Homo sapiens: one gene and its partners. The protein of the gene in region 4 interacts with the protein of the main gene of each other region in a pairwise test. Each region holds a gene or a part of one and is shown on either strand. Other genes may lie near its edges.

Region 1 (3,500 bases), on a different chromosome or scaffold from region 4:
TATTTGTGTATTCAGCATATAGGTTTCTAAAAAACAAAACACCACTCTTCTCACACTCATGTTTGAGATTTGAGAATGCTCATTAAACTATGAGTTACTGAGGTAAAAGGCATATAACAAAAGAAAACACACCCATTTTAGTAAGGAGAAACTTGGTCAAAACTTGCAACAGTGCCACTGAGAAGACACAGTACCAAGCTTTTTGTCCTCTGCTTTGCACTAGGCCAGTGTTTTCTCAAATACATAAGGTCCTTGGTGAGCACACTTTCATATTTTTAATCCAGCTCAATGTATTTTTCAATTTCCCCAGTGGCACATGCTATGTTTTCAACTTGATTCTATAATGTCATCTAATTTGTGCACACCAAAAAAGAGACTTAAAAAAAATCAGTGGATGCACTAAGAAAATTTTCTACCTACTACTTTAATGCCTCAAAGTAACAATTTGTAAAGTAACACCAACACTGTTTTCTAAAAATCAGCTAGGATAAAATTGTACTTACCAACAACAAAACAATCTTTGAATCATGTTTTTCAAGTAAATTAGTAAAATAATGGAAATTCATAAACAAACATGAACTTCCAACATTCATTAGATTATTGGTACACTAAATTTGTTCTGGACAAGGCCTTACACGTGGCAGTATATACATTTTAAAAATATACAACTGAAATTAAAAAAATCTTTGTATAAAAATGGCCAATAGTTTTACTATTTAAAGTGCTCTTATAAGTCAGTAAGAAAATGATCATGTTTCCAAATACTAAGTACACAGTGGTTTTAAGCATAAAATCCAATCCAAGCATTGCTTTCAGTGACAATATAAATAAATACATTAAACAGGAAGAGAGATATCCATCTATCATTGAACATGAAATATTATAAAGCCATTTACTATTTCAAATACTAGGTAATATGGAAAAATATATATTACATGGTAAGTAAAAATATAAAAACATGGAAAATATAAACCATAAAACAGCATTCAGAGAGCAAATAAAAGGATGTTAAAACAATCCATGCAGACTAAAACAAAGACCAGAAAAAACATATACCAAGATATTAACAGTATCTATGCTTAGGTAATTAGATTAAGAATGATTACCCTCACTTTCTATTTTTCACAGTTCCTCAATTTTCCTTAAGGAACACATAATTCTGGTACTTGGTTTTGATTCAGGTGTAAACTTTCTCGGGGATTGACAGTATGGGGTCTGTTTATAAGAATGGCCGAGAATGGTACTCAAACATTTTATAGCTAGAACTCAACACCCTAAAGTATGTTTCTCTGCCACGGAGAAAAATGTTAAACAACACACTCACAGAGCAGCAGACTGAATTTTCACTGGCAGTGGAGTATGTGGGGGTAAGGAACCCAGACACTGGCCAACATGGCAGCCTCCAGCCACATGTGGCTACTGAGCACCTGAAATGGGGCTACTGTAACCGAGGGAGGCTTAATTTTCCATTTTTAGTTAAACAGCCACCTGCAGCACAGAGAGCAAACACTTCTATCACCGCAGTAAGTTCTATTGGACAGTGTCAGCCTTGACTGTGGAACTGGAGAGATGGCTATGAATCCCAGCAATGTCATTATGTAGCCCTGGGCAAGCTGCTTTAGGTCTCTGTCACTCAGTTTCTTTCCACGTAAAGTGGGATATAAAACATCTCTGATGAAGGATTAAGGTAATGATGAAATAAGTAATGTATCATATGTAGGCAAAGAGAGTAGCAAACTCCCTAACATGTCGCACACACTCAATAGATGCTACGTAGCCACCAAACGCCCTCCACTGGCACTGATATTTTCATAAAGTCTTCAAACATAAGCTGTCACCAATGCCCAGAGCTCCGCTGCTGTATACAGCCAGCTGTTCTGTTAACAGACACAGACCACTGCTCCTCCTGATAATACATGCCATCCCCCGATAAGAGGAGACATGAAATACGTAGCTAGAGGAACCGATATCCATTCTTATTAATAAAAATAGTGGCTTTGTTTTTATGTAGTAAAGTCAGACTCTATTACCAAAAGGTCTTATTTCATAAATTCAAAGGATAAGATATTGAACAAACCCAAACCCCCACATTTTATTAGAAAGTCTATTTCACCTTAATATGGTAAAAACACACACAAAGTAAAATTAATTTAGGCATTTCCCATTTCAATTAGCAGAAAAGCTTAGATCATGCTGAACCACTGTTTTTCTAGGTAGCTTGAGGTAAGAAAGAGCCTTTTATCCTATTGGTGTAACTAACAGAACATCTAGTGGGCCATGTTTCCCAGCAATCCAGTTGCTCCACGAGAAAATCACTAAAAAACATGTAGCCTAATAATTCTAATTGTCACTATTAATAATTCCAGCACAGTCCCTTAAAAGGATCAATGTTATCTATGAGTAGCAAATCAACTCAAGCAGGCAGCAGGAGTCTTACCTTTTGATTGATGTAACAGAATACACAAGAATATAGCCATTAATATCTATGGAGTATGTCTGAGGAAAGATAGAATATTCATCCTGTGGGGAAAAAAAATTATCTTTGAGTAGTCTTCATATAGCATCACAAACAAACTTTACCCAAAGTTTTTCATGTATTACCTGAAGAAATCAAAGTAGACGCAGAGTGGATTACAATATTATGCCAGAAACAGCCTACAAAGTGAAGCTTTAAGAATGGCCTGGAGGTGATAATGTGGTTCAAGCCAATATTTAAAAATGACTAGCTGTTCTAGAACTTTAGGGGAAAGTCTGATGACCTTCATAATTTCTGGGAGAAGAGGATGGATGGAACACAAAAATCATTGGCTCTGTGATCTCAAAACAAGGGATGAGCATCACTAACTCCAGAACCTTCTAGACCTCAGGACATTTATAAATCCTGCTGATTTATCCCATAAATCTGTATTTTTATATTTGAAACTGGCATATTATTTGATTTATTCTCTGCATGTCAGTCACAATGACCTGAGCTTCAGTCTACAGGTTGCTAGAGGGGTGCCATCAGCATCTGAAGGAGAGAGGGAGAGAGGGAGGGAGGTGGGGGAGAGAGAGAGAAACAGAGAAAGAGAAAAGAGGATCAAAACACCAGGTTCAATTGAGGTATTCAGACTTTTGGGGACCAAGAGAGTTATTTACTGAGCAACTCTAGGAATTAAAGAGAAAGGTACCTATTACGCAACAGCACAGTAGTCTTTAGTTTTATAAAGCAGCGTTATGACACTTTGCTTTATATACGTATTAAAGCATACAGAAAGTTCTGATGTCAGTGCAGTTTTCAACAGCACGCGCCACTGTCTGGTACGAACGTTTCATTCTTAGTTGAAACTAAATTGTCAACATAACACATGTCCTAAGCACTATTATGGAAAAATCACATCATGGTACCAGAAGATTAAGCAGCAGTCTATTATTTTTGTAAACTTATAGTATGGTTATAACCACTGTTTATGACAGCCCAGAATTACTGCCCTATGGTAAAGTTCTTTAAAGAAAAAAAA
Region 2 (3,500 bases), on a different chromosome or scaffold from region 4:
TCTTAGTTGTTTTTTTAATTGAATTTAATTGAATTTTTATTGAATTCTAGTCCTTGTAAATTTCCAAATAGTCAGATAAGATACTGATTTACTTATTTTTATACCTCTTTAGACTATTGTATATTGATGTGGATATGGTCTAGAGAGAAGCAAAACTATGGAACTCAGAGAAAAATTTCAACAACTACTGAACTATAAGTAAACTTTACCGACTATTCCAAAGTATGTCTATTAATAGATATTCCATAAAGAGAAAAGTTCATTTTTAAAAAACCTCATTATTAAAAAAGTACACATATTACAGTGAAAATTAAGGCAACCAACAGGGTATAGTCATCATAATATAATCATACTCTAAGGCATTAATGATACTTGGCTTTGTTCTATGCCTGCTAATTACACCAGGGATGTGATTATCTCATGATTACTACTACTTATGTGCTTCATTGTTTAATTATAAAAAATATAATGATCAAGATTATTATCTGTATATGCTCACCTATGCCAGAAACTAAGTAAGGAAAATCATACTTACAGATGCATGTTAAAAACTCTATGTTTTACTTTTGATTAATATATTTGAATCTTTGATGTGCTGTGAGTTCAGAATACATACAAAATAAACCAATAATACAGTGAGATGGGTAGTAAAGTTTAAATATATGTGATAACAAACCTAAAACCCTATCATAAATAAACCTCAACTCAAGAATGTATGCAAAAGAAAACACCTCTCAACATGTTGATAATCTGATTGATTAAAACCTGAAATTTATTATTTTACTCTATTTCCTAACAATACCTAAACCTCCTTATTCCTAATCAACTATTTAACTCTTGCTCTTTGCCTTTATATAATAATAGCTTAATTATCATAACAAATTTAAATGTCAATGTTCTTTGAAATGAAAGCCTAATTCTATAAGTTTTACTTTTTCATATATTATTAACAACTTAAATATAATGTTTTGGTAATTGTGATCAACTTTTTTCCAAACAGTAAACCCAAATGGTATGACAGTCATATTAAGATGACCATAATTACTAACAGGATGCTTTAGCACATATTTTATAAATATTCTTTATCTTAATTTCTACAATATATAATCTAGATATTCTGCAAGTCCTCTATATAGTAATTCTTTTCCACAGTTGCATTTTTGTCTCCCAGACTCAGTCTATGTATGTGATTATATTTAAAAAACTGATTTGATTAGAGCTTTTCACTAATCTTTTGCTAATGTTTAACTCAATCAGAAACTGACTTCTGATTAGGTGATACCTGTGTAAGCACTGTTTTCCAGGAGCTTTCCAAAAATTTGTTTTAATTTACATCTGAAAACTGACTCACCACAGGCCTGAGCATCTCCACTACCATCCAAGAAAGAAGGCAGGAGCAAAATGCCTGTAAGATTTGAATTTTCCAATGAGTAGTACGGAAGAGACCACAAATAAATGTGGCTTGTGCTCATGCCAGAACTGTGGCCAGCAAGGCAAGTGCAGGGATAGGTGCTTGATAAATGTGCTATGATCAGAACCAGGGACAGGAGAATGTAGGTAGGATTATGTTGATCTATGAACACTACAGTGGTGTCTGAGCACGTGGAGGAGAGACAAGAAAGAAGGAAACAGCTGGTGACATAATGATCGATAGACTTGCCGATCCTTTCAGTAGACAGAAGAGAGTCATAATGTGTCTATGGCTAGCTGGACTAGTTAACATCTCATGCTTGAGGCCTGGTATTCTTGCCCCGGGCTACCTTTCAATCTCCATCTCCATCCCTGCTTATAATACTTTGTATGTAGATTATTTGGGTCCGTGTTTTCTTCTCTCCGATCCTTAAATTTTATTTATTTATCCTTCTCAGATTACTCAAATATAAAGTCAGTGAACTGGGAGTGGAGAGTGGAAAGTATTTATTATCTCTCCCAAGTGCTAGTACACAATGCTGATATGCATCTTAAAATATCGAATAAACTGATAAAGTGCTCATATGCCGCTTCTGAGGGATGCAGTAAGCCAAATTCGAACAGTTCTAAAAACAGAGCTGCCAAGTTCCATGCACAAGCCAAAAGGGAGATTTCTACAGAGCTGAAAAGAGCTTAACTGTAGATTACTGGCATGATGTTTTTGGCCCTTAGTATCAAGACTTGCACTTATTAATATGAAGAACACCAGAAGGAAGCACGCTGTAAATCATGAAAGCTCACGAGTGGGAGTCTAGTCCTAAGTTGTCCTATCTCTTTCACTGTCTTGGTGTAGGACCTTTTGTATATTAGTTAACAATGAAATATTTAACAGGTTTATAGCCTAGTTTTCCCATTTGAAATGCTTACCTGGAACTTTTGGGAAATTAACAAAGTCATGTTTTTAAAACAAGAAATATCTTGTAATACTCACTTATACAAAGACATGTAAATTATTTGCTTTGTATGATATGTATTTTAACTAGTAGAGTTATCATCTAACTCTAACATCAAGCCATGGTGTTTCTAGAATTAGAAAAACAAGAGGAAACAGGCTAACCCTAAGCATGAAATAGCCTAACTACTGCATTAAAATATGCCAAATTATTGGAAATAGTTTTTAGTAGTATTCATGATACTGCTCAGTTTCAGATGAAGGGACGGACTCAGATGTTAAGTGACCTGCTAAAGACCACACAGTTGCCTGGTAAGAGGAAAAACAAGACTCAAGTTCAGATGGTTAGGTCCATAAACGTATGTGTTGTACAAACTTCCTCTCAGGGGAGAAAGTGATTCTATTTTTCTATGTTTTAAAAATCTTATGTTTATTTTCCAAATAAGTGTTTTTCAGTAGAAGAATTCTGTTCCAAAATGGGCTACCCACCACACTAGTGGATTCAATTACTTGGCACACTAGAATGCATGAAATTCATTTTTGCTACAAATTAATAAACATTATGTGAGAAGTTTTTCATGGGATTTATTGCTTGTTTGATTAATACAGGTTTTTTGAGCTGAGATTTCAGCATCTAGAAGCTTATGTATGACTTATGTTTTATATATTGCCAGCACCTTCCACAGAGTCTGGCATGTAGAAGGTGCTCAACAGATGTTAAGTCAATTCTGTTATATTCCCAGTTGTCAAAGGCTTAAGAAGAATGGCTTGGGATATGGTATATTTTTCTTCCAAAAGGGAAAAAAGATTAAAAAAATCTGCATATGTTCCAATCCTTTGGCCATTCCATAAGTAATTTTTACTTTTCTGTGATTTATATTTCCTTAAATGTAAAAAAATTATGATTTTAAGAGCGGACAGGCCTGTGACTATGGTGGAAATGACTCTGTGTGCCTTCCCAGGCTAGGTCATTAACGGATATAGCTTCTACCTGGCTCTTTCTTTCTCTCTGGATGCTTGACTTTGAAACTCAGCCACTATGCTATGAGGAAGACAAAACTTGCCCGTGCAAAGAGATCAACATGGAGAAGAACCAAGGTCTTCAGCTGACAGTCAGACATATGAGTGAGAACCCTCA
Region 3 (2,835 bases), on a different chromosome or scaffold from region 4:
ATAAAATAGTTAGCACATATTGTGTACTTTCTTCAGTGCCAGGCACTCTTCTAACCACTTTATATGTATTAGCTCATCAGACTCAGCCTGATAATATGAGATGAGTCCTGTCATTATCCACATATTAGATAACAAATCTGAGACATAGAAAAGTAATCTGCCTTAGGTCATTCAACTGATAAAGGATAGAGTTGGGATTTGAATGAGGGCACTCTGGTTTGAGCTTGTAATCATTATATCATAAAGGACATGATGCTTGACTTCTCTTTCTCTCACCCTAATTCAACCTATTGCCAAGTATTGTACATTCTCCATGCTTAAAATCTCTAGGCGGTGTCCCTGAAGTATAAATCCAAAGCCTTCATGCCTGTAATCCGAGTGCTTTAGGAGGCCAAGGCAGGAGGACTGCTTGAGCCCAGGAGTTTGAGACCAGCCTGGACAACAAAGTGAGATTCATCTCTACAAAAAAAAAAAAAAAAAAAAAATAGCCAGGCGTGGTGGCACATGCTGGCTAAAGGGGGAGGATTGCTTGAGCCCAGGAGGTCGGGGCTGCAGTGAGCCGTGATCACACCACTGCACTCCATCCTGGGCAATAAAGTTCAAGCATTTCACTTGGATTTAAGGTTCTTTATAATCTAACATCTACTTCTCTTGCCTTCTTATTAACTCCCCATTCTTGTATTCCTAATAACCAGCCAGTAGAATTAAATTATTTGCATGGGTCCTATCTCCTTTTCCACTAAGCTGTTGCACATTGTTAGAATTCTTTTCTTTATCCCTTTTATGTCTCAGCTTCAATGTCACATCCACTAATTAGAGCATTAGATGGCGCTCTACTGTACTTAACACCTATCACAGCATTTAGGACACTGTATTTTAATTATTGCCTTACTTGTTTTTTAGTATCTCCCACTAGATTGTGGAGGTACTTGTTTCTTGAAGGCAAGGACAGGTTCACCTTCTTTTCTTTTTTTTTCTTTTAGACGGAGTCTTGCTCTGTCGCCCAGGCTGGAGTGTAGTGGCACGATCTCGGCTCACTGCAAGCTCCGCCTCCCGGGTTCACACCACTCTTCTGCCTCAGCCTCCAGAGCTGCTGGGACTACAGGCGCCCGCCACCATGCCCGGCTAATTTTTTGTATTTTTAGTAGAGACGGGGTTTCACTGTGTTAGCCAGGATGGTCTCAATCTCCTGACCTCGTGATCCGCCTGCCTCGGCCTCCCAGAGCTGCTGGTACTACAGGCACCTGCCACCATGCCCGGCTAATTTTTTGTATTTTTAGTAGAGACGGGGTTTCACTGTGTTAGCCAGGATGGTCTCGATCTCCTGACCTCGTGATCCGCCTGCCTCGGCCTCCCAGAGTCCTGGGATTACAGGCATGAGCCACTGCGCCCGGCCAGTTCACCTTCTTAATGTCACTCATATCCATCCCCTTCTCTCTCTCTCTCTCTCCTACCGTACTTTAGGCCCTCATTATCTCTAGCATGGACAACTGCCTTAGTCCATTAACTGTTCCCCCTGTCCCTAGTCCATCCTTTATTTAATCCATACTCAACCCTGCAGAGGCAGATTCGTATAACAGCTGAGTTAACACTTCCTGCTTAACACTTCAGTGGATCTTAGCTGCCTTTTAAAAAGTCCAAATATTTTGGTTCATTACATGAATTTATCTCCTCCCATTTTCTATCTCCTTATTACCTTGTACCTAGTAGGAACTCCATAAATACTTGTTGAATGAATATGGTACTGTGTCAAAGTCAGTCAAGCAGAACCAAGAACAAAGAGGTTAACCAAAGTAATGCAGTCTCGGTTGCGAGGCTTCCTAGGACAGTATAGCCATAGGCTTAAGTGGAAGTCGAAGACTAGTAGTGTAACTCTTTCTCTTAGGAGGGAATCCCCAAACATACCTTACTATTAGATGACTCTTTGTCTTTGCATATGCCTGGAATATGCTCCTCGACCTGGCAAACTTATCAGATTTGGTGACTCAGTTCAAGTATTCCTTCCTCTATTAAACCTCTCCACACCTTTCTAGACAGAATGTAAACTGATTCAACTTTTTGTAGGTTAGTTTATAAACTACAACAAGAGTGATGAAAATATGAAGACTCTTTAATCTAGAATTGTACTTCTAAGATATTACTTAACTAAATGATTTGGGGCCAGGTGTAGTGGCCCATGCCTATAATCCCAGCACTTTGGGAGGCTGAGGCAGGAGGATCACTGAAGCCCAGGAGTTCAAGATCAACCTAGGCAACGTAGGGAGACCCCCATCTCTACAAAAAATTTAAAAATTAGCCAGGCATGGTGGCGCATACCTGTAGTCCCAGCTGCTTCAGAGGCTGAGATGTGGAGATTGCTTGAGCCCAGGAGGTCGAGGCTGCAGTGAGACAATTACAGAGTGATACCCTGTCTTAAAAATAAAAAATAAAAAAGCCTAGCTACCTAGTTATGAACTTTCTTTATTTAGAACCAAACTCTTAACCTCAAGTTATACACTTTAATAATCCATTCTATTCCCAGTTCTTCAACCTGAAGGAAAATTATATTCTAAGAAATAGAATTGGAATAGAATGATTTAAGACCATAAGTAATCAAAATACTTCATTTTCATAGCTAGTATTTTCAACCTTTTGCTGCCTAATATTTCATTAGCAATGGTAACATGAATAATGTGGAAAGCATCCAAACATAGTGAATTTATTCTTAGCCTTTGTATATAAACCTGCATACTCCCAGTTGCCTCTCTCTCTGACCTCAAGGGTTCATCCTAAGTTAATATTGATCTAAATAAAAGTTATGCTGCCAGTAAATCATATATCCCAAAGTCAAACAGG
Region 4 (3,500 bases):
GGCGTGGTGGTGGGAGCCTGTAGTCCCAGCTACTCGGGAGGCTGAGGCAGGAGAATGGCATGAAGCCAGGAGGCGGAGCTTGCAGTGAGCCAAGATCAAGCCACTGCACTCCAGCCTGGGCGACAGAGTGAGCCTCTGTCTCAAAAAAAAAAAAAAAAAAAAAACTTGCCTGAGTTATTTTCCTTACTCTGTTCTATTAAATGTTGACAGGCTTTTGCATTTGTACTAACATTTGCATAGTAGACAACAACACTCTAAATTGAATCGGCTGTCATTATGATTAAATCCTTTCCGACCATGGTGAATGAAGGGAAAACCACCATTGTTATATTTCATTTCTTTTCTCCTAAAGAAAGCAAATTTATGTGTCGTTAAAATGTGTATAGATTCTTCCAAAGTAAGGGTATTTGACAACTTTGAAAAGTTTATAGGCTAACATTTCATTTAATATACCACTAGGTTTTCAGATCTAGGATTTGAAGTGAAATGCTTTAATGATCTTAAAGCAGAAGAACTACTGCTCAAAATTCATGAGGGTAGGTAGTTTTGCTATCATATAGTTCATCTTCCTCTAATGAAACCGAGTCCTTTATCCTATCTGTAAAGACAGGTACAAGTAATTACTTGTGTGACAAAAAAAGTATTAATTTAGCACAGGTTACAGGTTTTGGGTATGCTGCTGTGTTTCCGTTACCCAGCACATTTAGAGACCCTTGCAAATAATTATGCCTCTAAAGTTTATATTTAGCATACCACTAGTTACAGTCTCTTGTAGAAATGAATGAAATGACCCCTTCAATTGGCAGTAAAAGCCTAAAATGCAAGTACTACAGGTGCTGGGCAGTCAACAGGCTCATTTTCTCATTGACTCCTTTCATGCCTCATTTTCTCACTGGTTTCCAAATAGTGTTGGTTTACATACATTACCTCCTTTAATTCTCACAGCGTCAATAGGGGGTAGGTATTCTAATTATAACAACCTATATTATAATCATCGCTGCATGCCAACCATTATATTTGCATAATTACTTTAAACTTTCTTCAGAGCTCTTCTTTAAACTGCACATCATTCTAACTTTGGCTGCTTTTACCAGCTTTTCTACTTTGCTCAGAAGCTTTGGAGGACATCAGTCTCATGGCACCGCACCTGGCTTTGAGTACTCTTTTGGAAGCTCTAAGTGCTATAATCTTTTTTTTTTTTTTTTGAGATGGAGTCTCGCTGTCCGCCCCAGGCTGGAGTGCAGTGGTGTGATCTCAGCTCACTGCAGCCTCCACCTCCTGGGTTCAAGCAATTCTCCTGCCTCAGCTTCCCAGGTAGCTCGCCCCCATGCCCAGCTAATTTTTGTATTTTTAGTAGAGATGGGGTTTCACCGTGTTGGCCAGGCTGGTCTTGAACACTGGCCTCAAGTGATCCACCTGCCTCGGCCTCCCAAAATGCTGGGATTCCAGGCGTGAGCCACTGCGCCTGGCCCTAAGTGCTGTATTCCTATAGTGAAAGTGCAGCAATGCGTGGGGAGCTGTTGAGCAGCAGTTTCTGGGTCTTTCCACTCTGCTCTAAGGTCTCTGCTGATTCAAGGAAATTTTTAGTTTATTGCCAAAATAACTTGGATCTTAAGTGAGATTCCCTATCGTAATCCCTTTATGTTTTCCACATCATTCTGTGTTTTAGAAAGGCTAATGAAATTTGGTCAAACTCTATTACTCTGAACTTTAATAAATTTGGATTTTTTTAAAAAAATAAGATACAGTACGGTATATTGTTTGATTAAAGACTAAGTTGTTTCATCACAGATATTTTACACTTATTAAAGAGTAGGCCGGGCATGGTGGCTCATGCCTGTAATCCCAGCACTTTGGGAGGCTGAGGCGAGGTGGATCACCTGAGGTCAGGAGTTCGAGACTAGCCTGGCTACATGGCAAAACCCCGTCTCTACTAAAAATACAAAAATTAGCTGGATATGGTTTCAAATCTGTAATCCCAGCTACTTGGGAGGCTGAGGCAGGAGAATCGCTTGAACCCGGGAGGTGGAGGTTGCAGTGAGCCAAGATCGCGCCACTGCACTCCAGCCCTGGGCACCAAGAGTGAAACTCTGTCTCAAAAAAACAAAAAAGACAAAACCACAAATTTTCCTCCTCCCCAATCATGTGGATGTAACTTTATTCTTGTGTTAATAAACTGAATTTTTATGTGTAGATAACAAGCATCATATTTTCATTTCTATATTCTCTTTTGGGTCCTTTATAGTGTCAACTGTTAGCCACGCAGATGCCGATTGCTTTGTGTGTGTCTTCCTGAGCCATGGCGAAGGCAATCACATTTATGCATATGATGCTAAAATCGAAATTCAGACATTAACTGGCTTGTTCAAAGGAGACAAGTGTCACAGCCTGGTTGGAAAACCCAAGATATTTATCATTCAGGTAAGACTGAGTACATTATCATCTTAATTATAAAGTCTGTCATTCTGAACATGTGATAAAGGTCTAAAAGCCAGTTTTGAAAGTAACTTTCTCCAGTAATTGGACAGGCCGTTTTTGAATTCTGGCCAATCATAGTTGCACTTTGAGCTGTTAGTAATAATTCTTTGACACTCTCATTGTCTATATTACAAAATAACAGCATTTGGATTGAGATTTGAAGTGACTCACAAAGTAACCAATGTGCTACTCCCTGTCCGAGCCTGATACCAAGGAGAGCCATTGGAAAGCGTACCTGCTGATTGAAGAGTGCCGCACAAGGCAACCTCATCAGACTAGGTTTGCTTCTTTGGGAGGTGGAGAGCATATAAACCAGTGGAAAGAATGGAAAAATAAAGCCTTCTAGTCTTATCCTGTCTCATCCCTTTCACATTGCCCCTTAAACCAAGATTGTTTCCCCGCTGCCAAATTGGTTTTAGGGATAAAAGTATTTTTTACAGGCGTGATGGCTCACACCTGTAATCCCAGCACTTTGGGAGGCCGAGGCAGGCAGATCACCTGAGGAGTTCAAGACCAGCCTGGCAAACATGGTGAAACCCTGTCTCTACTAAAAATACAAAAATTAGCTGGGCATGGTGGCAGGTGCCTGTAATCCCAGCCATTCGGGAAGCTGAGGCATGAGAATTGCTTGAACCTGGGAGGCAGAGGCTGTAGTTAGCCGAGAGCATACCACTGCACTCCAGCCTGGGCGTCAGAGCGAGACTCTGTCTAAAAAAAAAAAAAAATTTTTTTTTTTGCATGAATATTACTTGGCACATCATTAACGATTTTTTTTTTTTTTTTGAGATGGAGTCTCGCTCTGTCCCCCAGGCTGGAGTGCAATGGTGCAATCTCGGCTCACTGCAACCTCCGCCCCCAGGTTCAATTATTCTCCCACTTCAGCCTCCCGAGTAGCTGGGATTACAGGCACCTGCCATCATGGCTGGCTAATTTTTGTATTTTCATAGAGATGGGGTTTCACCATGTTGGCTAGTGTGGTCTTGAACTCCTGACCTCAGGTGATCTGCCCGCCTTGGCCTCCC

Evidence for each region. The genes of interacting proteins can lie anywhere in the genome.
Region 1: the proteins of CASP6 (region 4) and RHEB interact in binary tests that used the Homo sapiens proteins (3 or more experiments, as listed by UniProt).
Region 2: the proteins of CASP6 (region 4) and TMEFF2 interact in binary tests that used the Homo sapiens proteins (3 or more experiments, as listed by UniProt).
Region 3: the proteins of CASP6 (region 4) and LIPT1 interact in binary tests that used the Homo sapiens proteins (3 or more experiments, as listed by UniProt).

What each region holds. Positions count from the first base shown.
Region 1 is NC_000007.14:151,474,896-151,478,395, forward strand, and holds part of RHEB (GTP-binding protein Rheb), read right to left. Parts: intron 2,521-3,500; coding exon 2,438-2,520; intron 1-2,437. UniProt on the Homo sapiens protein: Small GTPase that acts as an allosteric activator of the canonical mTORC1 complex, an evolutionarily conserved central nutrient sensor that stimulates anabolic reactions and macromolecule biosynthesis to promote cellular biomass generation and growth.
Region 2 is NC_000002.12:192,184,934-192,188,433, forward strand, and holds part of TMEFF2 (tomoregulin-2 isoform 1 precursor), read right to left. Parts: intron 1-3,500. UniProt on the Homo sapiens protein: May be a survival factor for hippocampal and mesencephalic neurons. The shedded form up-regulates cancer cell proliferation, probably by promoting ERK1/2 phosphorylation.
Region 3 is NC_000002.12:99,157,967-99,160,801, forward strand, and holds part of LIPT1 (lipoyl amidotransferase LIPT1, mitochondrial precursor), read left to right. Parts: intron 1-330; exon of another isoform or gene 331-446; intron 447-2,835. UniProt on the Homo sapiens protein: Lipoyl amidotransferase that catalyzes the transfer of lipoyl moieties from lipoyl-protein H of the glycine cleavage system (lipoyl-GCSH) to E2 subunits of the pyruvate dehydrogenase complex (PDCE2).
Region 4 is NC_000004.12:109,693,446-109,696,945, reverse strand, and holds part of CASP6 (caspase-6 isoform alpha precursor), read left to right. Parts: intron 1-459; coding exon 460-536; intron 537-2,245; coding exon 2,246-2,421; intron 2,422-3,500.